3 separate regions of the Homo sapiens genome follow, and regions 1 and 2 are each linked to region 3. The links come from fine-mapping of genetic effects on gene expression. A gene starts in region 3. Each other region holds a variant in brackets. All regions are shown on one strand. Distances are between the middles of the regions.

The links.
Region 1: its variant is fine-mapped to the expression of TRIM65 in ileum (GTEx, PIP above 0.99).
Region 2: its variant is fine-mapped to the expression of TRIM65 in spleen (GTEx, PIP 0.97). The same link has a PIP of 0.9 or more in sun-exposed skin and transverse colon.

Annotation. Positions count from the first base shown.
Region 1 is chr17:75,839,146-75,849,225 of GRCh38, forward strand. It overlaps UNC13D (unc-13 homolog D), which reads right to left and starts at 5,259. Exons shown (of 32, transcript NM_199242.3): 1 at 5,076-5,259; 2 at 4,339-4,374; 3 at 4,014-4,121; 4 at 3,869-3,928; 5 at 3,712-3,778; 6 at 3,288-3,468; 7 at 1,812-1,856; 8 at 1,617-1,685; 9 at 1,362-1,431; 10 at 1,080-1,184; 11 at 873-965; 12 at 694-797. The coding sequence starts at 5,192. WBP2 (WW domain binding protein 2) reads right to left here. Exons shown (of 8, transcript NM_012478.4): 4 at 9,425-9,517; 5 at 8,651-8,785; 6 at 8,342-8,464; 7 at 7,763-7,839; 8 at 6,554-7,642. The coding sequence ends at 7,589. RefSeq lists silencers at 4,529-4,588, 5,439-5,498, 5,509-5,668 and enhancers at 4,776-5,480, 5,899-5,978, 6,109-6,198. The variant C/T (reference allele first, on the strand shown) is at 5,046.
Region 2 is chr17:75,918,441-75,928,520 of GRCh38, forward strand. FBF1 (Fas binding factor 1) reads right to left here. Exons shown (of 30, transcript NM_001319193.2): 8 at 9,636-9,753; 9 at 9,015-9,092; 10 at 8,318-8,437; 11 at 7,848-7,986; 12 at 7,590-7,723; 13 at 6,907-7,006; 14 at 4,746-5,201; 15 at 3,505-3,606; 16 at 3,032-3,120; 17 at 2,804-2,862; 18 at 1,834-1,989; 19 at 1,567-1,667; 20 at 1,228-1,434. Among named protein-coding and RNA genes, the nearest start is that of FBF1, 18 kb to the right of the region's middle. RefSeq lists enhancers at 2,667-3,866, 7,263-8,462. The variant C/T (reference allele first, on the strand shown) is at 5,000.
Region 3 is chr17:75,892,839-75,901,621 of GRCh38, forward strand. It overlaps TRIM65 (tripartite motif containing 65), which reads right to left and starts at 4,113. Exons shown (of 6, transcript NM_173547.4): 1 at 3,686-4,113; 2 at 1-12. The coding sequence starts at 4,099. It overlaps MRPL38 (mitochondrial ribosomal protein L38), which reads right to left. Exons shown (of 9, transcript NM_032478.4): 5 at 8,363-8,435; 6 at 8,144-8,189; 7 at 6,678-6,836; 8 at 6,320-6,456; 9 at 5,806-6,148. The coding sequence ends at 6,012. RefSeq lists silencers at 3,383-3,952, 3,983-4,462 and enhancers at 3,830-4,539, 4,540-5,247.

The sequences.
Region 1 (10,080 bases), 53 kb before region 3:
TAATCTCAGCACTTTGAGAGGCCAAGGCAGGCAGATCACCTGAGGTCGGGAGTTGGAGACCAGCTTGACCAACATGGAGAAACCCCGTCTCTACTAAAAATACAAAGTTAGCTGGGCGTGGTGGCGCATGCCTGTAATCCCAGCTACTCGGGAGGCTGAGGCAGGAGAATCACTTGAACCTGGAAGGCAGAGGTTGCATGCAGTGAGTCAAGATTGCACCATTCCACTCCAGCCTGGGCAACAAGGGTGAAACTCCGTTTCAAAAAAAAAAAAAAAAAGCAGCAAAATGATGACCCTGCAGTTCCAGCACTTGTGTTTCATGAGAAGCTGGAGATCTGGATGGTATGTCAAATCTCCAGATAGCTTTTTCTAATATTTTTTGGAAATGAGGTCTCACTCTGTGATCCGGGCAGGAGTGTTGGTGTGATCATAGCTCACTGCAGCCTTGAAATCCTGGGCTCAAGTGATCCTCCTGCCTCAGCCTCCCAAAGTCCTGGGATTACAGGAGTGAGCCACCGCATCAGCCGAATCTCTAGACTTTTTAAAATTGGCAACTGATTCAAAACTTAAAACACACATTTTGGGCCAAAGGGAACTCTGCTGAGAATTACACTTTGGGCTACCGGCTTGGAGGAGGGCAGGGGGCGTGGGGGGCTGGTGGCTCAGGGGTTCTGCCCAGGGCTGTGTACTCACGCCATGGACTGGTGGAAGTCGGATAGGTCCTTCTGTGTGGCGTGCAGAAAGAGGACGGTGGCAGCCTGGGGACTCAGCGACCCGTCCCAGGAGGTGCTTCCCGCCTGAGGGGAGCAGGTGGAGGAGTGTCAGGACCTGAAGGGCAGCCCCGGCTGCGCCCAGCCCCAGGAGGGCAATACCTCGTGCTGGGTGACCTCGTGGGACACAAGCTGCTGCAGGAGGTGGAGGTGCACGGTGTAGCTCGGCTGCGAGCGGCTGGCCGAAGTGGCTCTCTGCAATGAGGCCTCTGTGAGCAGACAGGGCCTCACACTGGGTGCAGCCAGCCCCGCAACCCAGCAGACCGCCGCAAGAGCTGGGCATGGCCACTGGCCCAGTACCCGACCTACCCGCTTATGGATGAGTTGGAACTGGAGGTGGCACTGGCCTCGGTCTGGGTAGGTCTCAGTGCGGGGTTCCAGGGGGTACCACTGGTCCTCTCGGCAGCGCAGGTCCTGACAGGCGGGGATGCCCAGCCCGTGAGCGTCAGAACCTCATAGAGTCGGGGCAGCGGAGGCGACAGGAGGTGGACCCCAGGCTCAGCTTTGTGAGGACACAGAGCCTCTCCCCAGAACCCCTCCCAACCCCCTCCCTCTGCCTCGCTCCTGGGCCCCTTTCCTCATCCTCCTCACCTGCAGCCTCAGAACCACGTTCCCCAGAAAGTCGTCCTGGCCTTTGTCCTTCCGGGCCTCTTTAAAGATCCTGCGTCAGGCAGGGTCCCATAAGGGGGACGCAGCAAGGGTCGGAAGGGATTAGGCTGGAATCCACCCCCGGCCGCAGCCACCTGGACCCCAAAGGAGCCTGCACCCCAGCATCCAGTGTGCATGTTGGGGGATGGAGGGCAAAAGGAGCCCCAACCCCTTCCCTGTGAGCCCTGCAACACGAACCTGCGAAGCCCATGCAGATCCGTGAGCTCCCCAAGCTTCTGTCGGACAGACTCCACAGTGTCCAGGTCCCTGGCAGGACAGAGGTTTGAGAAGGAAGCAGAGAGAGTGCCTACGACCTCTTCCAGGAGGAGGTTCCGCCTCTCTCACCCCAGATCCCTTCCCTTCCCATCCCTAGGGGCAGGCCAGGTCACTCACCACATGTCCAGATGAAAGCTCGCATTGGTGATGTCCTCAAACTCCCTGTATGGAGAAAAGGGCGTGGTTGAGGGCCCTGGAGGGTGGATGCCCCCAGACGAAGCAGTAAGTGACCACAGCCCAGAGCCATGGAGTTGTAGCCTATCCCTGCCAAACTTCCCTCCTCCCAGCCGCATCCCTTTTTTTTTTTTTTTTTTTTTTTTTGAGATGGAGTCTAGTTCTGTCCCCCAGGCTGGAGGAGTGCAGTGGCAGGATCTAACTCACTGCAACCTCTGCCTCCTGGGTTCAAGCAATTTTCCTGCCTCAGCCTTCCAAGTAGCTGGGATTACAGGTGCCCGCCACCACACCTGGCTAATTTTTGTATTTTTAGTAGAGACGGGGTTTCACTGTGTTGGCCACACTGGTCTTGAGCTTCTGACCTCGTGATCCGCCCGCCTAGGCCTCCCAAAGTGCTGGGATTACAAGCGTGAGCCACCGCGCCCAGCCTTTTTTTTTTTTTTTTTGAGACAGAGTCTCACTCTGTCACCCAGGCTGGAGTGCAGTGGCGTGATCTCGGCTCACTGCAACCTCCGCCTCCCGGGTTCAAGTGATTCTCCTGCCTCAGCCTCTTAAGTAGCTGGGATTACAGGCATGCACCTCCACGCCCGGCTAATTTTTGTACTTTTAGGAGAGGTGGGCCTTCATTGTGTTGGCCAGGCTGGTCTCAAACTCCTGACCTCAGGTGATCCACCTGCCTCGGCCTCCCAAAAGTGCTGGGATTACAGGCATGAGTCCCTGCGCCTGGCCCCCACTAATTTTTTTTTTTTTTTTTGAGACAGAGTGTCGCTCTGTCACCAGGCTGGAGTGCAGTGGTGCTATCTCGGCTCACTGCAACCTCCGCCTCCCAGGTTCAAGCGATTCCCCTGCCTCAGCCTTCCGAGTAGCTGGGACTACAGGCGCCTGCCACCACGCCCGGCTAATTTTTTGTATTTTAGTAGAGACGGGGTTTCACCGTGTTAGCCAGGATGGTCTCAATCTCCTGACCTCATGATCTGCCCTCCTCAGCCTCCCAAAATGCTGGGATTATAGGCGTGAGCCACCACGCCCGGCCTTTTTTGTATTTTTAGTAGAGATGGGGTTTTGCCATGTTGGCCAGGCTGGTCTCAGTCTCCTGGCCTCCCAAAGTGCTGGGATTACAGGTGGGAACCACTGCACCCATCCCTGCCTCCTTTCAGGTACAGCTTCAGGCACCCCCAGACTCACCCACAAGGGCCTGACCCTCCTTGCCCCATCAGCACGTGTGGCATTGATCTTGTTCTGTCCCATCTGACCTACTGTCCACCTAACGTGCCTGGAGATGGGCTTCTCCTCTAGTCTTTGCCCAGGGCCAAACCCCCTCCCCTGAGCCAGGACGACCTACTCATCTCATTGTCTGGGGCAGACCCTGCTACCCAGGAAAGACCTGGATAGAGTGGGGGCTGGAGCACGGCCACGTACAGGATGAAGGTCTCGTCCCAGACGGGGTTGAGTGTCTGGGTGATGACCTGCGTGCGGTGGGTCTCCTCCTCGGGGATGGTGTGCCTCACCACAGCCTTCTGCCGATGCCGGGACCCGGGGCTGCCCCCTGGCACACCTACCCCCTGCTCAATGCCCAGCAGGCAGTAGGGGTCGCTGAACCCTGTGGAGGAGTGGGGAAGACGAGGCAGCCAGGGAGTCGGCTGGGTCCCTGGGAGAGGCCCTCATCACCCCCGCCCGGGGCTGAGCCTCCTCCGGGGGAGAGGGAAGGGGACCAGCAGCATGGGGGGCCAGCGCTACAGGGCTTCTTGGAAGTGGGTGCTCCCGCCAAGAGTCCTGGGCCAGGCTGTGATGGGAGAGGAAGGAGCCAGGAAGAAGCCCCTTGGGGACCCCACCCCATGCTCACCACTGACATCTTTGCCCAGAATGCCCTTGGCCTGTTTCACTGTTGCCTTCAGACAAAATATTGGCTTCTGGAGGGACAGGAGGGATGGCCTGAGTCCCTGAGGGGGCTGGGCTTCCCAGGCCCCTCCTTGCCCAGGGGGACCCTGGCCCCAGGTTACCTCAAGCTCCCTGACCCGCTGCAGTGTCTGCTGGTGCTCCTCGGGCTCCACGTGGAAGGCCTGGTGGGGAGGCAGGCGGGTGGGTGGCTGGGGGCACCAGACAGGGCAGCTGCAGGAAGGGGGGTGGGGTGGGAGCCGGGCTCACCTCCTGCAGGTATCGCAGCAGCTCAGAGGCCTCCGTCACATGGTTGGGCTCAGGATGACCCAGGCGGTGCAAGACAGTGTAGAGTGCGTCCTCGTAGAGCAGGGCCCGCTAAGACACACGGGGTCACCTTGGGGACCCCACCAGCCACCCCTGGCACCAACACCTCTCGCCATGGGCAGGACAAGGGCGGCTTGTGCAGCGGAGGGAGTTGAGACCCAGGAGTCCCCTCCCCACCGCAAGTTGCTTGCTGCCATCAGCGTCGGCCGGCAGGAGGACACACAGCCGCCCTCCCCACCTCTCTGCACCCCAGCACTCTGACTCTTACCTGCTCGGGGGAGAAGTGGTGGGATGGAGGCTGGATCTGCAGAGCAAGGTGGAAAGGCAGTGTCCCGGGAGGCCCAGAGCAGGCTCAGATGGACAGGAATGGCTCCTCTGAGGCCTGATCCAGGCCAAGGGTATGGGGGCCCCAGCACCCCGGCCTCCAGCCCCAGTGATGCCCCGCACCTGTTCCCCCAGCAGGCCTCCTGGAGGTCCGTCCCTGGGCCCGCCGTGGCTGAGGTCCATGGGTGCCCAGCAGCGCGAGCCCTCCGCACCCGCACCCCACCTCCCTCCCTTCCCCAGAGGAAACAGCTCTGCTTATCAGTGGCGGCTGCTCCTCACCCAGCAGCGGAAGTGAGGCTCGGCAGCGGAGGTGAGGGGGGTGCCACGTCGGCCTGGGGGTCTGCTGCTCCCCGAACAGCTCACCCCACAGCAGGGACACCCCCACCTAATGGAGTCGGCTCTTCTGAAGCTGGAGGAGTAGGGGATGGGGTCAGGCCAACCGGGAGGGAGGGGTTCTGAGAGCCTCAGACCACAGGGCCTGAGGCCCACAGTGGCCCAGAGTCCATCTGGCAGCCCCTGCTCTGCTGGCCCAGGGGGCTCTCCCCAGGGTGGAGTAGGCAGGGGAGGGTCGCTGGTCCCCAGTCCCAGCCTTCGAGAGGTGGGGCCAGACAGCAGGGCACCCGTACCCGAGACCACAGTGCTCCCCAAGGC[C/T]AGCTCTCTCCCCAGTGAGGTCACTCCTACCTCCGGGGCCATTTGGGGCGGGGGATCCTGTAGATCTCTGACTCTGCGGCGCCTTATCTTGATGGCCTGGCGCAAGAAGGGAGGGCGCTGCTGCGGATGGGAGAGGAGTGTCGCCATGGTGGCCTTCTCTGCCCTTCCCTGTCCGCTGGTGCTGGGTGAAGACAGCGAAGCCACAGGATTATGCAAAGAGCCTGGGGCTGCCACCCTCTGTCAGGGGAAGTTTTAGGGAGGGTGGCTGGGAGGGACGGAAGGGTGAGGGTTTCACCGCTTCGGAGAGGCAGTCTCCCAGGCCCCCTGCACCTTCCCCAGCTGGGATCCCTACAGGACCCTCCTCTGGCTGGAGCAGAAGGTGGACCCCGTGGGCAGGCCTGGCCCCGCCCCACCCTCCTACAGAGGCCCTGGGAAGGGGACAACGCTCTCAGCAGGGGGCGGGGGGGCCCAGAACAGGCGGGCAGCATCCTGCCCCATCCATGTGCTGTGCCCAGGCTGGGCTGAACCCTGAGAGAAGCTGACCTGGGCCCGGGGGGGTTCTCACCCCACTTCCTCGAGTGCGTCCAGACGTGGGGCGGGGCGGGGTGGGGTGGGGTGTGGTGGCGCCCAGGGTGGGGGCTCCCAAGAGGCGTCTCCCTGGAGGACAGCCAGTTGCTCAGCCTGCCTGGCCCCACAGGTGACATTCCTTGGAGATGACGGGGCCAAGCTGTGCTGGGCAGGGACAGCCCTGTGCCCCTGCCCCCACCTTGGCAGTCAGGACAGTGCTCCCTTCAGACACCCTTGAAGGGGGCTTAGCCAAGTCCCAGAGAGCTCTGGGCCAGGCTGGCCAGGAGGAGGAGGCAGAGGGGCTGCTGCCCGATCTCTCCTGAGGACAGACTTGGCTCCCGGGGGACAGGAAAATGCGCCTCAGCATGGGGCTTTCCTAGAGCTCTGTGGCCTGCCCACCCTGTGCCCAGTGCTGGGCTGGGGGACTTGCGGGCGTGTGGGCCTGGTCACGGCCTTTGGCCATTTCCCACCCTCCTGTCCCTTCAAGTTCACAGCAGGGCACGTGACGTGGGTGGTGGCAAGCCGGCTTGGCTACCTCAGTGTCCCTGTCACAGGTCCTGACGTGCTCCAGGGCTGACTCGGCCTCCTCCCTCCAGCAACCAGGACTTAGGCCAGGGCTGCCATTCCTCGAGGAGCCAGCAGGGGACAAGGTGGCAGCCCCAACTCCTCCCTTCAAGGCCAACTCTGGGCCACATCCACCTCTGTCCCAGCCAGGCCCTGGGGACTCAGTGGGGGAGGGACACAGCTGCTGAGCGACAACCGTTAAGAACCAGCTCCAGAGGCCAGAGCTGTCTTGGGGACCAGACAGGCTGGCTGGGCCGTGAGAATGGGGATCCTCCCATGGGAGGGAACCGTCCCAGAAGTCTCCAGGGCCCTCAGCGGCCAGACGGCTCTCCTTCCGGAAGAGACCCCCGGGTCACCACACGCAGAGCCAGAAAGGGTCCAGTTATTTCATTTTTACTATTTCACATTTTCAGCAAACAAATCGAGGTGCAAACAGGGTTTATTTCACATTAATATATTAACTGGATTTTTTGTCAAATAAATAGGGAATTCTCTTTAAATAACCATCTCCTCACTTCATGGCCAGTCCAGGGACAAACAAGAGTGAATGTTAGCGCATCCAGGGGCACAAAGCTTAAGGGGAAGAAGCAGGCTGGGGGGCTGGTGGCAGGTCCCGGCCAGCACACAGGGTCAGGGGCCCTTGTTCCCGGCCCCACCCAGCAGCCACCAAGTGGACAGACATGCATTCTCTGGTTCCAGTCAGGAAGCTCCTTCTAGAAGGAAGTGAGAGGTGAGGGAAAGCAAATTCCAGAAACACCAGCAAAAGGCAGAAGGGCTTCCTCCCAGCCTCGGCGGCCCTGCCCCGACGCCACCCAAGCCCTGGAAGCTCATTTTACAGCTTCAAAAGTCACACAGGGTGGCAACAACATGACCCAGGACAGGGAAGGGAAGGAAGGGTGGCGGGGGCTGCAGCTGGACCCTGGCTGAGTGGAATGCGGGCGCGGTGGCCTTCTGAGACCAGCACAGACCAGCAGAGGGAATGTGAGCAGGGTCTGGCAGGGCCCGGGAAGACACCTGGCTGGTCTGAAGTGGCTCATGAGGCTGAGTGTAGCAGTGGGTGCCAGACTGAGGGAGCTGGACTGCGGTGGAGGAGGTGGCCAGAGAGTCCCTTCGAGGGGAGAAGCTGAGAGTGAAACAGGAACAGGGGATGCTCCGTGCTCCCAGAAGAGCCCCAGACGGTGAGGGAGGTACGCTGGGCAGCACTGTGGGCTCCGGGCTGGCATGGGAAGCTGGGCGGCACCTCTCCCGAGGCCGGGGGCCCTAATGTCCCACAATGCTAGTTCCTGGTAATTGTTTATGATCAGACCTGGAGGGAGAACAAGGCGCCCCCTCCCCTCCCCAAGCCCCAGCACAGCCCCGATGGGAGGGGTAGGGTAGAGAGATGAGGGTGGGAGGCAGGGAGGCAGGAGGGCCTACTGGGTCTTCTTATCTTCCGGTGGGTAGTAGGGAGGTGGCGGCGGCTGGCTCTAAAGAAGGGAGAAAGGAGAGACTTGCATTAGAAGGTTTAAAACATGGTGCGGTCATCCCCCTGCGGCTCCCAGCATCTGCGGCTGTGGGGCTGCACCGGCACTGCCAAGCCCTCTCACCGTGGGCATGTAGACGTTGTGAGGATTGCCTGGGTTGTAATAGGCGCTGGCGGCTGCTTCTGCGGCCTTGGCTTCGGCTGTGAGAGCAAACACACCTGGTGTCGGTGACAAGTTCTCCTCCCCCTGAGCTCAGCTAAGAGACCCCGGGCCCCCATGGCTCGGGGCAGCTGGTGCTGGGGGTCCAGTTCCACCAATGAGAGCAGCAGGTGAGGTTTCCTGAGCACATGCCACGCGCTGGCACGGTCCTTTCCAGGCCCATCGCATGTCTCACCTCATCTAATCCTTGAGCCAATGCCCCAGGTGCCACTGTGACCGACCAGCTGAGTGTAGATGAGAGGATCGAGAGGCACACAGGGTGACCTTCCCCGCCCAGGGCACATGGATAGCTAAGGGATGGGGGTGGGGCCAGAATCTAGCTCCGCTCCACCAGGCCACAGCCCTGCTGGGCCCCTGGGGTAGTCCAGGGGTCATCCATCATCTGCGGCTCTCAGCAGTCTCTGGCCATTCTGAGGCTCTCTGTGCGACATCGGGGAGGAGAGGGCTGGTCCCGAAGGGCTGCCAGCACCCAAGGGCCCTCACCTGCAGGAGTGGAGGGGACATCGGGGCCGCTGACCGGAGGTTCCATGGGCCCAGGGTAGGGCGGTGGTGGGGGCTGCACGTATCCCATGGCCCCGTCCATCATGGGGGGTCCTGGATAGAACTCTGCTCGGTGAGAGAGTAACAAGGACATGGTGAGCACCCGGCTGCGGCCCCCTCCCGGGTGAGGGGGGCCTCTCCAGCTCCTTCGTTGGTCCTGAAGCAGCTCAAGGAATAAAGTCTCCCTGGCCTGGGGGGAGCCTGGGTAGGTGGGCTCATGAGGGGAGTGGGGGCAGCAAAGGACACACTCACCAGGTGGGGGCGGTGGATAGGGGTAGCCAGGAGGGCAGGGGTACATTCCATTGGCGACTGGCGGGGGATAGACATAGGCCCCGCTGGGCATGTAAGAGTAGCCATAGGCTCCACTGGGGACTTCACCTCTGGAGGCTACGAGTACAAGGGGAAAGAGAAATGAGCGTGGCCTGCCTTGGGGCGGGGAGAGGGCAGCCCCGCTGCCTGCAGATGGGAGCTACTGGGTCTCAGGAATGTGCCCCGCAGACATCCTCTGTCCATCCCACTCCACCCTCCACCCATACTCGGGGGGCCACCTTGGTCAGGGATGAGAGAGGACGGGAGAGGTCAGAGCCAGGGGAAGGCAAGGGAGGTCAAGGGCAAGGCTGGAGGGTGGACAGAGGCCGGGAGGGAGGCTCAGGGCTGGGGTAGGAGTGAGCTGGCGGAGGATGTCTGCTGGCCCATCCCTCGGTCATTTTCAATGGCTGCGGAACCGCAGTCGAATGGTTGGTTTAGTGTTTGTTTTATGAGGCCATAGTAAAGTGTCCTTGAGTCCAAACAGCTTTGTCAAAACGTCATCCACCTGCCCCAGGCAGGGAAACGCAGTCTCTGAGGTACAGGACAGAGCTGATGCCAATGACAGCTTTCCTTCCCAACTCCTAGGCCTGGTCAGCCTGGTGCCCAAACACTTACCTCTTGAGTTCTTGAAAAAGCAAAACGAAAAGGAAGCAAACTCATACCAAACCCCTACATGTTTAGTGTGTCTTTAGCCCCTAATCTTCGGAGCCTGGATACCTTGAGATGCCACCTGGAGCATCCGCTGTCCGAACTCAATGGCGCCCCCTGCCGTGAAAGTCAACTTGTAGGAAGCAGAGCCTTCCCAGCCACCTGAAAGGGGAAGGACAGTGAATAAACAGCACAGGAAAAGAAAACTTATGCCCAAAGAGATGGCTGTTTTCCTCTCCAGGACTTCATCCAACGCCCGGGAGGCCTGCGGGGGCTGGGCCTGCACTGTGATGGGGACTTCCTGGTGCCATGGTTTCCAGCCTGCTGCCTGCATAGGAGCCAGCACTGCAGCCTGGCCTGGCCCTGCTGTACTCGCTTCCCCCTTTGGAACAATGGCCTCTCCTTCCTGGAACAAGCCTGTCCTCCCACCCTTGGCCCAATATGTACACGGGTGCCAAGGCCACATCAAGGTTTCTCTCCGCCCCCAGTCAAGCACTCGGCAGCTTCACAGGAACAAGCCCACTCAGCAACAGCCGACCTTAAAATTCAGAGCAGACCTCTCGTCCTAAGGGGGCCCAAGGACAGACTCCGGCCCCTCTAGCCTGGCTTCTGCCCAAAGGGGGACCAAGAGTGTCTCAATAGCAAGGGCGGGCCTGGCTGGGTGTCAAGGGGAAGGCAAGTTCAATGCAGAGGTCTCTGGGGCCTGCCAAAAAGCCAGCCCCAAA
Region 2 (10,080 bases), 26 kb after region 3:
GCTACACGCACTAAGATGGGCATTCCTCCCATTATTCAGCTTTTCTTTTTTTGGAGATGGAGTTTTGCTCTGTCACCCAGAGTCTCTCACTCTGTCGCCCAGGCTGGAGTTCAGTGGCATGATCTCGGCTCACTGCAACCTCTGCCTCCTGGGTTCAAGCAATTCTCCTGCCTCAGCCTCCCGAGTGGCTGGGACTATAGGCGCTCACCACGCCTAATTTTTTATATTTTAGTAGAGATGGGGTTTCCACCGTGTTGCCCAGGCTGGTCTCGAACTTCTGAGCTCAGGCAATCTACCCACCTTGGCCTCCCAAAGCACTGGGATTACAGGTGTGAGCCACCACGCCCGGCCCCAAGCAGTCTTTCTTTTTTTTTTTTTTTTTCCTAGAGATGAGGTCTCACTATGTTGCCCAGGCTGGTCTTGAACTCCTAGCCTCAAGCAATCCTCCTGCCTTGGCCTCCCAAGTGTTTTGTTTTTTAAATGTTTTTAGAGACAGGGTTTTGTTCTGTGGTCCAGGCTGGAGTGCAGTGGCATCATAGCTCATTGCAGCCCTGATCTCTTGGGCTGAAGGTATCCTCCTGCCTCAGTTTCCCAAGTAGCTGGAACTACAGGAGTAGCTGTCATGCCAGCTTATTTAAAAATTGTTTTTAGAGATGAGGTCTCACTGTGTTGCCCAGACTGGTCTCAAACTCCTGGCCTCAAGTGATCCTCCCACCTCGGCCTCCCAAAGTGCTGGGATTACAGGTGTGAGCCACTGCACCCGGCCCTGAGCAGTCTTAAAAGGCTGCCTCTGCCTTCATCGACCTCTGACTCCCTTAGGTAACTTTTCTTAGTTTCCTTCTCTTCTAGAAAGGCAACCCTATAAACATGGCAGGCACAACAGCGCAAGCCTTTCCCAGGTGGATCTTGTTTCTAGCCTCTACTGCATGAGCAGGCGAGTGGATGACCCTGTGCTTAGTTAGACCCTAGGCGGCTTGCTGCTGCCATGCCATGCCTGAACAGCCTGTGGGTACCCCCTCCTGCCTCTGTAAGAGCAGGTGGCACCCCCACCCATGGGTGTGATGGGTCAGTGTGCTCAGCCCTCAGTCCTCACTCACTGGACTGGGAGGGAAGGACCCAACCCCTGTCCAAAGGCTGCTGAGCCACAGCGAAGGGTCTCGTGGGGATGGCTCTCTTCCGGCTACTCCTTGCAAGCCTGCTCCCCAGCTGCCTGTCCCTGGGCCTCACCGCTGCAGCTCCCGGAGCCGCTCCATTTCCTGGTCCTTCTCCTGCGCTATGGCCGCCAAGCGCCGCTGGTGCTGGGCCGTAAGCTCAGCACGGGCCTGTTCGGCCTCCTGGCACTGCGACAGATACCGAGCTGACAGCTCTTCGTTCTCTCTCCGGAGCCGCTCCTCCCGTTGCTGGTACGATGTTTCTAGCACCTTGATGCGGCTTCTGCCAACAGAACACCCAGCCATGGCGCAAGGAAGGCAGAGGGCTGCCGCCTAAAGGCCTCTCCAGGCACACTGGGTGGCCTTTGGGGTCAGTGTGAGATCCAAGGCAGAGCTGGGGCCAGCGCCAGGGTACCTGTGTGCACTCTCGATGAGCTCCAGGTCTGCCTGGTGCTGCTGCTGCAGACTCCCCAGCAGCAGCTCATGCTGGGCCCGTTCTAGCTCCAGCTTCCGCACCTGGGAGACAGCAGGAGGGCCAGCAACCAGGGAGGGGAGGTGGCTGTACTCCACGCTGCCCTGTGCCAACAGCCCTTCCTCCCTCCTGGGGAAGCTTCCAGCCACTCTCAGTGTCCCCTCCTGTCGCAACCCTGCCACCAGCACCAACGGCCCCGCTGCCCCTCACCTGGGCCTCCAGCTCTGCCAGCCGGGCCTGGCTATGCAGCAGCTCGGCCTGGAGCTCAGCGGGGCTGCACTGAAGTTGCACCTGTGCTGCCAGGAGCTGCTTCTGGTATTCTGTGCTCGGCAGCAGGCTCCGGGCCAGGGACTCTGGGAGCAGGGGCTGGAGGAGAGGAAGAGAGGTGTTTCTAGTTAGGGAGGGGACAGGGGCCCAGCTGAGATCAGCTACCTCCTGGCCCACTGCTCACTGGACCTCCCTGCATCTGATCTGTGGCTGCAGATGGGGCCAAGGCCTTGGAAAGTAACAGTCACTGCGGCTAAGCAGTCCCCAGTGTACCTCCCCTTGCAGATCTGGTCAGGAGCATGTCTCCCTCCACCCTCCGGAACAGCTTCCTCCCCAGCATGGTCTCCGGCTTCCCAGACAAATGGCTGAACCCCAGCAGAGTCTTCGCTATGACAAAAGCTGATGCTGGCTTTTCCTGTCAGGCCTGAAGCCCACATGTTGACACTAATCTGGTTCCCACGAGCTGTCCCCTACCCACCATCTCCCAGGGACACACTCCTGGGGGGGGGGGGGGCACACCTCCCAGGCCCAGGTGTCACAGGTGACTGCCACACATGGGAAACAGAGGCAGAGGTGTGGTGGGAGGATGGCAAGGGTGGAGGAGGCTTTCTTGACAGAACAGGACCCTGCGGCCCTGCTTTCTGACTGCAGCATCCCAGCTCCCCGGCCTGGCTGCCTCCTTAAACTCCCCACTGATGTAGGCAAATTAACACCCAGCTCTGCCCAGGAGCAGCGAGGCTAGAAATTCAGGCAAGTTCTAGTGGGGGGTGCCCGGGGAGCTGGCTGACGTCACATTTGGTATGTTTGACACATTTTTCCTGGCAGGTCGTCAGGTCAAACTGTGGGTATTGCCCCTGGGCATGGAGAATTGCTCCCTAGGCCCTGAGCTAGACCTGTCTGCCCACACCCCTACCTGGACGGGCACGGAAGGCTCTGTGGGTTTCTGGGTGCTCGGGAAACACGTGGCAGGCTCTGAAACATCAACAACAGAGAAATGAACAGGAGGCCCAGGGCACTGGGCCTGCGAGTGTCCAGGAGGGGCTGGTGTAACTCATGTCCCAGGGACCCCAAAGGAAGCTCAAAGCACCTCTTCCTCACCCAGGGTTAAACTCCCAAATGAAGCAGCAAACAAAAAACAAACCAGTGGCTGAGAGGTCTCCAGGGGCTGTTCCCCTCTTTGGGGAACCTGTAGGGAGTGCTGAGGCGGCATGGTTCTGAGTCACAGGGGACCTGAGGACACAGGGATGGGGCATGGTGAGCAGCCTCTGTGTGGGACACGGGGACGGGGCAGGGTGGGCAGCCTCTAGGTGGGACATGGGGACGGGGCAGGGTGGGCAGCCTCTACGTGGGACACGGGGATGGGGCAGGGTGGGCAGCCTCTGCTGGGACACGGGGACGGGGCAGGGTGGGCAGCCTCTAGGTGGGACACGGGGATGGGGCAGGGTGGGCAGCCTCTGTGTAGGGCACAGGGACGGAGCAGGGTGGGCAGCCTCTGTGTGGGACACGGGGACGGGGCAGGGGCAGGGTGAACAGCCTCTGTGTCCCTCTCTCAGGACAGAGGCCTGTGCTGCCCACCATGCTCTCATTCCCACTCAGCCCGCAGCCCAGGCCTACCCCGAGACACCAGGCCTGACACACGGTCTTTCTCGTGCAGTTGTTCCAGAACTCCCTCCAGCAGCTGCGTGCTCAAGCCCTTGTGTGCTGGTGAGAGGTTGGCTGAGGAAAGGCAGCGTTCAAGGTGAAGGTGACAGAAGGCCCAGGTCAGGCTGGATGAAGACAGGGCCCAGGACGGGCTTCACACGTGAAGCTCGTGGCCCCCCTTCCTCCTGCTTCCACCATCCCGTCTTGGGGCATTCTCCTCCCACGTCTGAGCTCCTGGGATTTCTGGGCATCTCTTCCCTTCCAGTACCCCCTTCCTGCCTCAATGTCCACAGTGGTGCAGTGAATGGACACTGTCCAAGCAGTGACAACGGAAATGTTATAGACACTGGAGTCAAGTTCAAGTTCAGAGCCCTGTTCCAGTCCACTTAACTTGGCTCAGCTCTAGATTAGGATTCTGCTCAGTCTACCAAATCTGGCTGGCTCCCTTTCCCATTATTTCCACCTCTTTCTCGGCTCACGGGTCAGTGAAGAGACAGGCTCTTTTCTGTTTTGGCCTGAGCTTTCCCCTCGGCCTCAGGTCAAAGTCAAAACTGCCCTCCTGTCATCAACCCCAGGACAGGGTGATGTCCCTGGGCTGTCACAAATTGCCCAGTTCACTCCCCTGGGCTCTGGCCACAGCACATCTCACCACTTCCTCTGGACTCCCCCAGCCTGCTGGCCCCTTGTGCCTTCCTGCCTTCAGAGGTCACTCGCTATCCTGCCCCACGGATAAGGGCTTCTCCAAGAGGCGCCTCTCGGCCACTATGTCTCCTCTAACACTCTCAAAGAGCACAGGGACATCTCAGCTCACACACGCCATACTCGCTTCAGTGGAGTCGGCAGAAGCACCGGCTGTTTGGATGCCGGGGCTTCCAGCCTGAGGGCGCTGTGACAGGGCAGCGGTGTGTCTGCCACCTCAGGGACCCTCTGTCTTCTCCTCGATCAAGTTAGCACCTGTCCCCATGGCGGTCAGGGCATGAATGTCAACAGCCCTCCTTCTTGGGTATGTCCCTGGGGCAAGCCTGGGAGCCAGAGGCTCTCTCTGCAGTGCCTAAAAGGCAGAGTAGCAAAGCCAAGAAGCGGCCTCTGTGGCCACGGCGCCCTGCCTTGTTCCCCAACTGCTGACTGAGGCTGCAACAGGTGAAGGGGCAAAGGGGCTCCTCAAGTCCCCAGCCAGTCCTCCCCCTACTAGCCACAGCAGCCTAAGTCAGTACCTGCCAGAAGGGGGATGGCCCGCTGTCCCCGCCAAATGCAGGCCCTCAGAGGTCCCAGCATGCTGCTCTCTGGCCAGGCCTTGGGACTTCTTCCGAGACAGGGCATGGCTCAGCCAGTCCTCTTTCTCCTCCTTGGAGGCTCGCAGCTTGGAAGCCTGGCTGGCTTTGGCAGGGGACCCTGCACCTTCAGTTGGTGGCTTTGCCCTGGAGGGGGGCAGCCCAGCTGGCGTGGAGTGCTGGCTCGCAGGAGGAGG[C/T]ACTGAGGGCGTGACAGGCACTGAACTTTCCCGATGGGCCTCTCTGGTGGGTGAGGCAGGGAACAGGTCCAAGTCCTCGTCCTTGAGGCCCAACCAGTCAGCTCCTCCCTTCCTGGGCTGGATGGGGCTGGAAGCCATTGGAGGGCTCTGTTTGGAGCCTGGTTCTCCCTTGGGGTCTGCGCCACTGTCTGCGAAGAACCTACTTCAAGACAGAAAGGAGGGTGTCAGGCAGGGGAAACAGCCAGTCCCAGTGGCCCCCTAGCAGCCTGCAGCTGGGCGTCACGATGCCCAGGGACCCTGCACAGTCAGCTGAGGCCCAGTGAGCAGTGGCTCCTGGACCGGCTCAGGTGGCAGGCCACGTGCTGTCTGTAGAACACCACGAAGTACAGAGACCTTGACTTCCATCACATGAACCAGGGACAGTTCTACCCACAGAGAACAGGAACAGGATCAAATGACAGCCATGGGCACACAGGTCTAAAGAAAAATCAGGCCGAGCACGGTGGCTCATGTCTGTAATCCCAGATCTTTGGGAGGCCAGGGTGGGCAGATCGCTTAAGGCCAGGAGTTCAAGACCAGCCTGGCCAACATGTGAAACCCCATCTCTACTAAAAACACAAAAAAATTAGTCAGGTGTGGTGGTGGGCGCCTGTAATCCCAGCTACTTGGGAGGCTGAGGCATGAGAATTGCTTGAACCCGGGAGGCAGAGGTTGTGGTAAGCCGAGATCATGCCACTGCACTCCAGCCTGGGCGACAGAGTGAGACTCTGTCTAAAAAAAATAATAATAAGTTGGATCAAGTGGTTTCCAGGTTTTCCAACAACAGTTACTTCATTTGTTCGGCCGTGGCCTTCATCTGTCACTGACCAGTGGCAGCAGGTTCCCAGGGTTAAGAACGTACTGGGTATGGGAAGTAATGCCGATGTGCTTAGAGCTATTCAGATAGAAAGAGGATGAAGAAGCCAACCTGGCAAATGGGAACAACTGCTGAACCTGGGAAAGGATGAGAGGGGCTCCTGGTGCTGTTCTTACAACTTCTGAAGTTTTTTTTTGAGACGGAGTCTCGCTCTATTGCCCAGGCTGGAGTGCAGTGAGTGGTGCAATCTCAGCTCACCACAACTTCCGCCTCTAGGATTCAAGCTATTCTCCTGCCTCAGCCTCCCGAGTAGCTGGAATCACAGGCGCCCACCACCACGCCCAGCTAATTTTTGTATTTTCAGCAGAGACGGGGTTTCACCATGTTGGCCAGGCTGGTCTTGAACTCCTGACCTCAGGTGATCCACCTGCCTTGGTCTCCCAAACTGCTGAGATTACAGGCATGAGCCACCATACCCAGCCGACTTTTGAAGTTTGAAATTACTTCAAAATACAAAGTTTAAAATATATACTGGCAAAAGAACTCCAAACTCAGAAAATCCTATCACTGATTTAATTTTTTTTTTTGTAAACTGAGAGGATCACGCTGTCAGAATTGTCACGGCAGGTTCGACAGCAGAGTTCCTGGGAAGCGGGGTCTAAGAAGCCACCGCAGATGCCAGTGGTCTTGCTACCCATCAGGAAGTATGTTCCTTGGGGAGACCGAGCGACATCACAGCCTTTTATGATTTCAGGGGCTTTAGGTGGAGGCAGGCCCACCTGCCCCTTTCCTTCTGAGGCTGGGTGGGGCACTGGCGAACCTGAGCAGCGTCTGGGATGGGGGTTCCCACTGGGGCCATCTCCTCCACTCTGTCTGGGCTGGCGGGACCAGGCCATCTCCCGCTTCCTTCAGCACCTGCAGAGCTGAGGGCCTTGTACCCTGTGGCCTCCCACATGAGACTCTCGGGTGGGACAGGGGACAGCTGCAGGGGCCTGTCTTCCCAGTGGCCGACCTGTCTCAAGAGGCCAAGCCTCCTGCAGGCCCCACTTACCTGACAGACTGCCGGCGGGACTGCCGGCCCTCAGAGGAGACCACAGTGGGCTGATAGGCTCCAAAGGTGAAGTCCTCGTCACCCCACATATCTTCACTGTCTGTGAATTAAGGAGCCTGTGACCGTGATCTGGAGTAGGGGAACCAAGCTCATTTGCGGCTGCAAAATTCTAACAAAAGCTGAATTTGGTAGCTTGTTGTGTAAGACAAGCAGAGGGAAGCTGCTGTGAAGGGAGCACCTCAGGCACTGGCCAGGAAGATGCAGTGGCCTTGCAGTAGCCAGACCCTGCCCCAGGATCCCTCGAGGTCAGGTCCAGCGAGCGGCATGTGTCACAAGAATGATTCTCAGCAGACAGCTTGTGGGCTGATGCTTTGAGAAACATGTCCAGAGCAGTGCTTTTCAAATGCGAGCTGCTACCCATGAGAGGGCTGAGAAACCAGCTTAATGTGTCACAGCCAGTGTGTTTCCAAATCAAACAGCATCTCAATCATAGACAACTGAGCACGAACAGTGGTCACGGTAAGTATTATTTCACGGTAAGTATTATTTTGTCTCAGCTATAGACGTGTATAATCACATGTGTGTATCAGGATGTGAGGCTGATTTCTCATTATAGGTTGTGATGAAAGCCTGATCTAGAGGCCTCCCTCCCGTCCTGTTGCGGCCCCCGCAAGCCTCCTTACCCTGTGGCCTCTGGTACTTCTTGTCTAGCTTGAACTCCCTGTGCTCCCCGGTGCCCGGGCGGGCCAGGAGTTTGGTGGCCATGCCTCGACCCAGCAGCTCATCCAGCGTGGAGCGAGCAGGGCGAGGCCCTTCCCTGCAGGACGGGACACACGGCAGGAACGTGTAGGTATGAGGGGCTCTCGGGAATCCCACAGTACCCGTCCACCAGCTTTTCCCTGAACCTGAGGCAGCAGCCTGGCCTACTCAGGGATCCTTACTGGTCTCCTATCTGCCTCTTCTCTGCTTTGGGGCTGTCTCCAAACCCCAAGGTGGCCATGATGTCATCCCCATCATCAAACAACAATTCTTCTTTTTTTCGGATGGGGGTGTCCCCAGGAGTTAGAGGAATAGAGGGACCTGAAAGACAAAACAAGGCCCAATGCCTGCAGCCTTCTTGCCCTCAACTGTGATATCTGAATGGGGTTGGGGGTGGTTTCTCTGCACCTTTGGGTAGGACGACAGGCTTTAGACCTGCCTGGTCTGTCCACGGGACCCAATTCCTCCAGCCTACTCCCAGACTCACACGTCCTACCTTCCTATTCCTAAAGGCTGATGATCTCTTTGTACTGGACCTTAGACCTCTGGTCCCCACCTGGGAGAGGCCTCTGGTTCTGCACCAGAAAGGCTGGTTAGCTTGTTGCCAATAAACTCTTCCTCCAGGATGGGAAATGAGCCCACTCCACCCTACCTTGATCTCTCACTGTGCTGGGGCTCTTGTCAGAAGCTGTTTTACTCTGTGTCACAGGCGGCTGCTTGGTGATTCCTCCTTCATCATAGGAGAGAAGTCCTCTCAATGGGTCTTCCAAGTCTCACAGCAGAAGGGAAAGCACAGGTCAGACTGCAGCACTTAGTTGAGGAAAAGCAAGCCTGAACTGGGGAGCAGCGCTCGAGTCAAGGCTTCTAGCTGCTCCAGTACATAAACAAGCCCCCTGGCATCTGGAGGGTGGGGCCTGGGGCAACGGGGACTCCACAAAAAGACAGGCCGGGCAAGGAGAGAGGGAGTTGGAGGGCGGCCCTGGACCTACGGGGCCTGCCTCAGGCTTGCCGGTGGGGCCTCTGACTCTGCAGGCTGCATGGCCTTCTGGAAATGTCCCTCAAGCATCAGAAGAGAAGTAAAATATCCACACATTCATGACGGGAAAGGGGCTCCTTCCTATACTTGGGAAGATCTTCAGTTTGATGCCTGGCTTTAAGGTCTTTGCAAATAAGTTCCCTAATATCTCAGCCAATACAATATAGCTGGTCCCGACATGAATTCACGAGGAAGTAAACCAGTGGCACCCATGTGACATAGGCAGCAGCTGGGCCTCGGGCCAGCAAGCATGCCTAGGCTGCTCCACTCCCAAACCAGAGTGTCCCAGAGGCATGACAGGAGCCTATGGTACCTTCAGAGGAAAACCTCCTGTTCTGATGCCCAGAGCTGCTGGGAGACGGAAGTGACTTCTTGGTGGGAATGGCACCCCCTGCAGGAAGCAGAAGACAAGGTCATGGGCCTGAGTCTCTCCTGGCCAAAGTCCTCCTCCCATATCATGGACTGGGGCCCCTGGGATGGGGTGCACTTCTTCCTGGGAAGCTGGGGGCTCATGGCCATGGGCACAGCCAAGGGAGGAGTCTCCAGTTCTGCCATGGGCTTCTGGCAGGGAAACGAGGTAGGAGCTACCTCTGCTTCCTCATCATGAGTCACTCCAGAGACATGGGTTCAGGAGAGGCACAGGCTGCCATAGAGTTCTCCATTTTAACTCACACAGCTTCTCCAGGAGCTGCCCATGTTGGACCCAGAGGGCCTGGAACAGCTCGAGGAAGGGAGGAAACTCAAGCTGTCCCCTTACCCCACCACACACACTCAAACACACACACGCACAAATGCTCCTTGGCCTCTCCATCCTGTGCAGAGAAAACCCAAGGACATGAACGCTTCCTACTAGCATCTTCCACGTCCTCAAAGTCTCCCTAGCAGATGCGAGGAGCCGTCTCCCATGCACCTTTCTCACTGGCTACTGACCCACCTGCAGGCTTGGGGTGGTTGGGCAGCTCTCCTTTCCCAGGGTCCTTTGCAGCTTTTTTGCTAGGGGCTGAATTAGATTTCTTCAGACCTAAGATATCAGCATCCATGCCGTCCAGGTCCTAGAAAACCAGGGAGGGAGGGCAGAGGACTATGTCTGATAAGGGGCTGAGGACTTCCACCTGAGAGAGATGGGCTGTTGGCACCCCAGGTGTAGAATTGTGAGAAAACAAAGGAAAATGAGAAAACTGTTGAGAAAAACAGTGAGTGAAGAAAGAAAATGGAACTAAAGGTAAGCAGGGGGAGGTGGAATGGAGTCCAGCTCATGGTTCTGGGATGAGAGACTCAAAGTCAGCACCAAAAATTGAGTCAGAGGACTTGTGGGTTATGCCCAGGGATCCTAGGTGGCTGGTCTCGGGAAAAAAGCTTTCTTTTTTTTCTTTTTTTAG
Region 3 (8,783 bases):
TCTCAGCTGGGCCTGTGGTGCGGGCCCACGGGACAAGCAACAAGAGAAGGCCAGGATTGGCTGTGATGTCCTTTCTCAGACAACCAACCATGCCTGCAGACACCAGGCAGCCCCTCCCCACGCCACCCCAGGCCAGCCTCCAGAGCACCGGCCTCGGTCTAACCCAGGGAGAGTTGGGGCCGTGCCCCGGGGGGGTCCAGACAAAGTCCTTCCTAATCTGCAGCAGGGTGGTGCCTGAGCAGAGCGGAAGCCTTGGGCTCAGGACCCAACTTCCATTCCCATTTCTACCTCTTGCATGCTGAGCAAGCTGAGGCCAAGCACCTGTCCTCTCTGGGCCTAACCCCCCACCCATCAATACAGGAAAGCGATAATGCTGGCTCAGGAGGCCTCGCAGGGAGGACCCCAAACACTAAAGCCGTTGGTCCCTGTCTCACTGCAGAGGGGTCAGTGGCCCAGGAGGCCCTGGGGCTTGAGAAGCTGACTGCAGGGACCTCCCAAAGCACCAAAGCTGTCTGACAAGTGGGCAGTTACTTGCTGGATAAACTAGATTCTTCTGGGGATCCGGCCAGTCCCTGGCCCTAGTTTTGAGACTGAGAGGGGAGGAAGGGACCCCTATTCGGTTGCGCTCCCTGAGTCCCTTGGGAATCAAAACACCGTGCTCTCATGAGAGCAGGACAAACCACGCAGGTCCCAGGGGCTCCATTCCCAGCACCTGGTCAAAAGCTTCACCACCTTGTTTCTGCTCCTCCCGCAATGCACTGAGATGGGGACCATTACTATCCCCACATCACAGAGGAGGAAACGGGCTCAGAGAAGTTGATAATTTGGTCAAAGTCCTCAGATCTTCCTAAGCCCAGAGCTCCTCCGGGCCCCCAGCCTCCAGCATTTCACACAGGAACACAGGAGGCCGGAGGGCAGGCTCTCCCAGGGCACCCAACCCTCCCCCAGGGACAGGCACCCCCATGTCCCTTTCCCTCTCTCTTGCAAAATCCTGGCTCCCCTGGTGCTACTGGCTGCCCCTGTCGCTCCCTTCCTCCACATGGCCCTCATCTACCGGCCTCCAACTCAAACTTCCGTGCCTAGCTCAGTCTTCTGCACCCGCCCATGAGCAGTACATCTCGTCTCATCCTCCTCGGCGGCTTCAGCAGCTACAAGGAATGTCCCGCAACACTCTGGAGCCCTTTTCCTTCACCTCATCTCAGCCGCTCCTGTGAACTCACCCTGGCCCTGTCACCAGCTCTAAAATCTCCATTCTAGGCATCGATTCTTCCTTCTCTGACCACTGCCTTCGTGCCCTCTCCTGTTCCAGCCACCTCTGTCTCAGTCCTCCCACCTCACCGACCCCCAGCCGTGCACTCTCCCATCCCTCCCTGCCCATCAGGCCTCCTGGCCACCCCTTCCCTTCCTGTCCCATCCAGCGTCCCTGCGCCATCCTCCATCCACGCCTTAGCCCCAGGCCTCCTCTGTCCCCGAATGATTCCACATCCTGTCTTCGCTGCTGAAATGGGTTTTGTCAAGGGCACGGACCACCTCCACAGTACCGATGCTGAAGGTCATTTCTGTCCTCGTACTGAGCCTCTGATCAGCATGGGCATCCTGCCCGTTCTCTTCCTGGCACCCCTGTCTCCAGGTGCCACACAGGGCTGCCATTCCCCCGACCTTCCCCATCTCCCTGGGAGCTCCAGCTTGGAACCTTCTCTTCCTCCTAGCGCTAATGATTCCCAGCTCTCGACTTCCAGCTCCCCGCTCCTGAGCTTTGGAGCTCACAGCAAGCTCCGCCTCCCGGGTTCACGCCATTCTCCAGCCTCAGCCACCAGAGGAGCTGGGACTACAGGCGCCCGCCACCAGGCCTGGCTAATTTTTTGTATTTTTAGTAGAGACAGGGTTTCACCATGTTAGCCAGGATGGTCTCAATCTCCTGACCTCGTGATCCACCGGCCTCCGCCTCCCAAAGTGCTGGGATTACAGGCGTGAGCCACTGCACCCGGTGGTGGCCAGGCTGCGGGGGGTCCGGCCCCCTCCTGCTCCTGGCGGCAGCACCCACTTGAGGAGGTGACCCTCACTCATGGTGCACAAGCTGCAAACACAACAGCCCTTGGTCTGGCAGAAGAGCTCCAGCAGCTGCCCGGGGCGGGGTCAGCGCGCGGCAGGGCTGGGGCCAGGGTCCCAGGTGCCACAGGCCCGTCCCCTGGTTTGTCCCACTGGCCACTGTGACCTCTATATGTCCAAGGCCAAACTCTGCCCTCCACCTACGCCTCTCAGGACATAGCACCCCAGCCACCTGCGTGCTCAAGACAGAAACCCAGGTGTCTCCCTTGCCGCCCTCTCTGCTGTCCCCCGTGTCCCCTCTGGCCTGCTTTCGCCTCCACAAGGTACCACTTCCCCTCAGCGTTTCTCATCTCCTCCTCCATCTTGGTCTCCCTTCCCTGATCCCCAGCTGGTTCTTTGCCTCCCTGCACTCCTACCCGATTCGGGTCTTACATCCTGCCCCCTTCAGCCCCCAGCCAGGTGATCAGTCTCCATGAAGCCCAAATCTGATCATGTGCCAACCTGCTTCCAAGCCTATAATGGCCCCCATGACCCTACAGTAAGAGCCAGACTCCCCCAGGACCCTGCCCGATCCTGCCCCTGCTGACCCCCAGGGCCTGGCCCACAGATCTCAGTGGCACAAATCTGCCACTAGGGACCCCGCGTGCCCAGTTCTTTCCCATCCCAGAGACGGGACCAGGCTGATTCCTCTGCCTAGAATGCTCTTCCCCAGGTCTTTCTCCTGGCTTGCGCTTCCTCAATCCTCACATGCCAGCCTGAAGGCGGCCTCCCCTTCCTCCTCCTGGCCCGTTTAGCAGGGTCACCCCAACCCCTCTATCACATGCCATGTGCTTTCCTCACTGCATTTTGTAATAATACATTCACGCCTTACTGGAACACTGACTTCTTAAGTGGATTCTAAGTCTCTTAAGGGCAGGGAGCTCGTCTGATCCATTTACCAACAGCCCCCATAGCCCCCTCGCCCTCCACAACCCCGCACAGCGAATGAAAGGAGGCTCTCGGAGCGCAGGAGACACACGACGGTTCTCTAGCGCTTGGGCACGGAGCAGGGAGCTGCTGCCTCACGCCCAGGCTTTGTTCATCCAGAGGGCACCGAGCAGCTTCTGAGACCCACCCTGTGTCACTGGCCGGGCTGCATATCCCAGTCTGATGCACAGACCCACGATTTTTTGTTTGTTTATTTTCTGAGACGGAGTCTCGCTCTGTCGCCCAGACTGGAGTGCAGTGGCACGATCTCGGCTTACTGCAAGCTCCACTTCCCGGGTTCACGCCATTCTCCTGCCTCAGCCTCCCGAGTAGATGGGACTACAGGCGCCCGCCACCACGCCCGGCTAACTTTTTGTATTTTTAGTAGAGACCGGGTTTCACCGTGTTAGCCAGGATGGTCTCGATCTCCTGACCTCGTGATCCGCCCGCCTCGGCCTCCCAAAGTGCTGGGATTACAGTCGTGAGCCACTGCGCCTGGCAGACCCACGACTTTTATAATCAGCTCCCAGGTTGGGAGAAGCCCCTTACAGATGAGGCTCCCCGCCCCCGCCGGGTGCCCGAGAGAGCAGGGCGCGGCCCGCAGGAGTCACCCGGCGGTGGCCAGGCTGCGGCGGGTCCGGACCCCTCCCGCTCCCGGCGGATGCGTCACCTCGCGCTTGAGGCGCTCGGCATCCAGCAGCGCCCGCTCGTGGAGGCGACACTCGCGCACGGTGCACACGCTGCACACACAGCGGCCCTCGGTCCGGCAGAAGAGCTCCAGCGGCCGCCCGTGGCGGGGGCAGCGCGCGGCAGGGTCGGGGCCGGGGCCGGGATCGGGGCCGGGATCCCGGGCGGGCCCGGCGCGCACCACCTCCAGCACGCCGCTGAGGGCCACGTTGCGGCGCAGCTCGGCGCCGTCGGGAAAGGGCTCCCGGCACTCGGGGCACGCCTTTCCGCAGCGGTCCCACCAGTCCCGGATGCAGGCCCCGCAGAAGTTGTGGCCGCAGGGCAGCGTCACTGGGTCCTGGTAGAGCCCCAGGCAGATGGCGCAGGTCAGCTTCTCCTCCAGCAGCTGCGCGGCCATGGCCCGGCGGCGGCGAGAGCCAGGCGGGCCCCGGGCGTCTTAAAGGGACCGCGGGCCTCGCGCGCTGAGGGCGCCTGGGCGTGGCTAACGCGGGGCGGGGCGAGATCCGGGCGGGGCGGGGCGAGATCCGCGCCCGGGAAGGCGGAGGGGGGCGGCAGGCCCTTCTCTGACACCCTCGACGAGCGACCGCCGCAGGGGCCTAGGCCACCCCTGCCCACCTCGGCCTGGCCCGCTCGAAGGTTCCGCGTTCCCGCCTTGCGCCCCTCCCTCCGTTAGGGTCCACGCCACCCCGGCTGAGAGCTGAGTTCGGCTCTCTAGGGTCCCAGCCTGGCGGGTCCATCCCACCCCCCTGGGCCTTCAGCCCAGGTCCTGGAGACCAGAGGCTCGAAAACCCCGCCAGGACTCCGGGCTTCTGACCACGGGCCGCGCGGAACCTCTTCTGGACTCATCTGCCAGTCGCCTAACAGCATAGACCCCCACCCCCAACAATCCCCCGGGGCTTGGCGATGAAACGGGCTGGCGGGCTCCCTGCAGACCCGAGCACTGCTGCACTTTTTCCTGGAGCTGGGTTTCGGACACTTGCCAGACTGGGGTGTCTCCCTTCTCTGGGCTACACGTAATTTTGGTTCTTTTAAAGTAAACAGCGAGATGGAAATGTCTGGTCACCAAGAGACAGGGACCAGTTAACTGGTATTTTTCAAATGGCCCTGAATGAATACACAAACCAGCTTTCATCTGCAATCAGCATCCCCTCTTCCTGCTGCCCTCCGCTGGGGAGAGTTCCTTGCCTGGGGTCCAAGCTGATCTGCAGCCTCAGTATTTACAGGCACTCCAGCATTTCCCCTGAAGCTGAGCAGGCAAGGCGGGTCTGGGGCCTAGCGCCCACCTACCTGACAGTGTGTATCAGGCCAGGGGGAACCCCAGGAGAGTACGGCCTTTCTAACCAAGCTGGGCTGATGTTGAGGCGGCACGAGCTCTCACTGCTGCAGCAAGCACTGCGTCCTCTGTGCGGCCATAGACGAAGTTTCTTTCTGGACAAAGTGCACGGATCTACCCTCCACCTACTAGTTAGCCAGACTTCTGCTTTTGGTAAGGGAGAAACAAAACACCTAACCATCCAGCCGCAAGACTCCATGGGTTTTCTGACCCTGAGCAGGTCTCTTGAGACACGCTGTTGCCTACCTAATGTGGCTTCTCCTCCCAAGCATGGGGTGGGGGCTGGAGCCTGTGCAGAGGGTCAGTGCTCGGGCAGGCACTCTCTCTCCAGGGGCCGGTGGGACCCCCCTGAGGCACAGAGCCAGTGCTCAATAAATGCTCCTTCCTGAGCCCAGCTGCTCTGCTCCACTTTTTCGGGGAGCTGGGTTTCAGGAACCTGCTGGATTGGGATGTCTCCCTTCCCTGGGCCACACCTGTTTTTGGCCCACTGCCTGCTTTTGCTTCGGATCCCAGGGCCCCTGACACCCTCAGAAGACGGAGGTGAGGACGCACTTAGTGGGGTGGGAGGCAGCCCGTTTCCCACCCATGAAGCTCCATCGGGGTCCTCTGGCCCTGGAGCACCGACCCAGGCCAGCTATGGCAGAAATCCCTTTTTTTAAAAAATACAGGCAGGGTCTCATTATATTGCCAGCTGGTCTTGAACTCCTGGGCTCAAGCGACCCTCCCTTCTCAGCCTCCCAGTGTTGGAATTACAGGTGTGAGCCACCAAGCCCGGCAAGAAATCATGTTTATTCACATTCCCCACCCCACCACCTGAGAGTCACTTTCACTCCAAGCCCTGGGCCTGACGGGAGGGGGCCAAAGAGGGGGGCTGCCTAAGGCAGGGCCCAGACCCCACAGTGTGGGCCTCTGGAGCTGTGTCTTTACTCTTGCTGCCGATCAATCCCATGCTCTGAAATGCGCACACTCTGGCTCCTTAGTAGATGCCATAGGTGGGCTCATGACTGTCCCTGTACCGGTCCAGGTAGCGCAGGGGCTGCCGGTGGGGGAAGCGCTTCTGCTTGGGGTGGTAAGGGGGCGGCCGCACGAACTCAAACACCGGCTCCCGCATGTCTGCAAGAAGAGTGAGGGGTACGGGGTGGTCTGCTGGCCTGCGCCCCCTCAGGCTGAGGCCTGCCCACCAGGGACCTGCCGCAGCCTTCCCCTAACAAAGCTTCTCCCTGGCAGGGCAGGCGAGGCCTGGGAGCTCAGGCCCACCCAGTGCCCCAGCCCCATGGCCCTTACCCAGAAGCTGGTGGAAGATGTAGGTGACGGAGTCATCCCAGCGGCACTGGAAGAAGGACAAGCCGGCTGGAGTCATGGTTTCTTGGTGTTTCTTGTAGAAATCAAAAGTGCGGAAGGTCCGCTGGGCCAGCTGATAGCTATGAGAAGATAGAGAGCGTATGAGAGTGTGGAGTGGGGCACCAGAGCCCCTCACCCCGCCACCCCAACAGGTAACCCTGAGAGGCCCCTGGGAGTCTGCTAGCACCCTATCCTGCTCTTCTGCCAGTCTCAAGGCTGAGGTCAAGAGAGAACTGAGCAAGAGTGACCGTTCCAGGGGAGCTGGCCTGAGGCCGGGTTATGTGTGGGTGGTGTAGATTACCAGGGTGAGGGGCGTGCGTCCTCAGAGAAGTCAATCGGCTGGTCCTGCTTGAAGAGCAGGAAGGCAAGACGGTGGATGCCGGAGCCTCGGGCAGGGAAGGGGGGGAGGTAGGGACACGTCACCTGTCCTTCAGCCACCCGGTTACCCGGGATGTTGGTTCTGGGAGGAGGAAAGTCCCGGTTAATTACCACTCCAGGGAGGCAGCAGGAGTGTCCCCTCAGCTCCATGCACACCCTAGAGGCTGACATGACTCCCTGGGAGGACAGCTCTAAGCATCTCTCTCCTGGGACAGAGGAGGCAGCCAAGCTCTGTGAACGCCGGGACATGCTGCAAATACGGGAAGCGGGCTGGAGGAGCTCCGAGTGGGGGACAGGGCTCCAGAGAGCATCAGCTTGACAGCAAGGCCATGCAGCCGCTTCCAGGCCCCGGGAGCCGGTGGGTCCGCCACAGTCACTGAGGCTAGAAAGCCAGGCCACTTTTGGCTGCTTTTCCCTCTGCGTCCTGAAGTCTCCAGGACCTCGTCAGGGAGTGTGTGCCCAGCCTGGCACAGGGGCGGCCAACGCCTCAGGCACAAATCCCCAGAGGGTCCTGCCGCATAGGCTGGTAACAGTTGAATAAAAATGACGGAAACCAGCCTCCCAGTCACTGTCCCCAGTTAACCAGAAGGCTCAAAGTTGGGGTCACTGGCCTGACCTCTGCCCCCTGGCCTGGTGTTCAGAGCCAAAAGCTACCAAGATGGAAGGCCGCCCAGTCTGGGCCCAGGGAAGGAGCGCCCAGTGGTTCAAGGAGCACCTGGGGGACGCCACAGCTGCTAGGCCTCTCCCGCTCCTTCTCCCACGTGACTGTCACAGTCCACCTCACGCTGAGTAAGGCATGTGGTGCCATTATCCCAGTTTTACAGGTGAAGAAATGAGTTTAGAGACGAAGGGCCCAGGCATGGTGGCTCACGCTTATAATCCTAGCACTTTGGGAGGCGGAGGCGGGCAGATCGCTTGAGCTCAGGAGACCAGCCTGGGCAACATGGTGAAACCCTGTCTCTATAAAAAAATACAAAAATTAGCTGGGTGTAGTGGTTTGCACCTGTAGTCCCAGCTACTCAGGAGACTGAGGTGGGAAGAGCACCTGAGCCCAGGAGTTAGCGGCTGCAATTAGCCATGATTGCACCACTGTACTCCAGCCTGGGGGACAGAGTGAGACCCTGTCTCAAAAAAAAAAAAAAAAAAGAAAAGAAAAGATGAGGAGGCTTGTGGGGACTGACCGAGGCCTACTGCAAACTTTGTCTCCTGTAGCTGTCTTCAAGTAGACACGTGGATCCCAGGGCCCCTAACACCCTCAGGAGGCAGAGGTGGCAGGTGAATTCAAGGTCCCATGGGTAGTCCATGAAACTCAGGAGCAGCTCAGTCCAGGCTCCCAGCTCCTCTTCCCGCCTGGGCAGCACCCCCTACCCCCAGTACTCCAGTACTCACAGCAGCCAGTGGAGGTACTCAGCATCTGGCTCCAGCAGGTGCCCATCTGCACAAAAACACACCTGCTGACCACGGCCCAGCCGACCACGGCCCTGCCACCCCCTCCCTTGTTAGGAGCCAGCGCTGGAGATCTCCACCTGGCCCCTCCCCCAGCCCCCCAGGGCCCTGGCTCATAGGAGGTGAGCGGGGCAGGAGGCCTGGTGAGCCCCAGACACCCACCCAAGCTAGTGAGTAGCAACGTCCACAAGGAGCCCTCTTCTGCCTCATAGGTCACCTCTGGCGCTTGGGCAGCCTGGCAGGGTGAGAAGGAAGCTGTCAGCCCCACCAGGGACAGGCCAGCTGTTGCAGGGAGCCTTGGAGAAAGGGGTGCCCACTCTGACCCAAAAGCCCTTGACAACCCCTGGCACAGGCAGGCAGGCAAAGGGATGCGTAGAGAAGCAGCCCTGCAGAGTTGCCTGTCCAGGCAACAACCACAAAAACGAACATGTGCCAAGGCCGGGCCAGGAGGGCACACCACAGACAGCAGGCTGGTCACAGGAATGTGCTAAGACAGAGCCTCTTTTTCCTTCATTTTGTTCTATTTTCTTTGAAATTGTCATGGTGTCGTCTTCCAGGAAATCAAAGAGACAGAGAACAACAA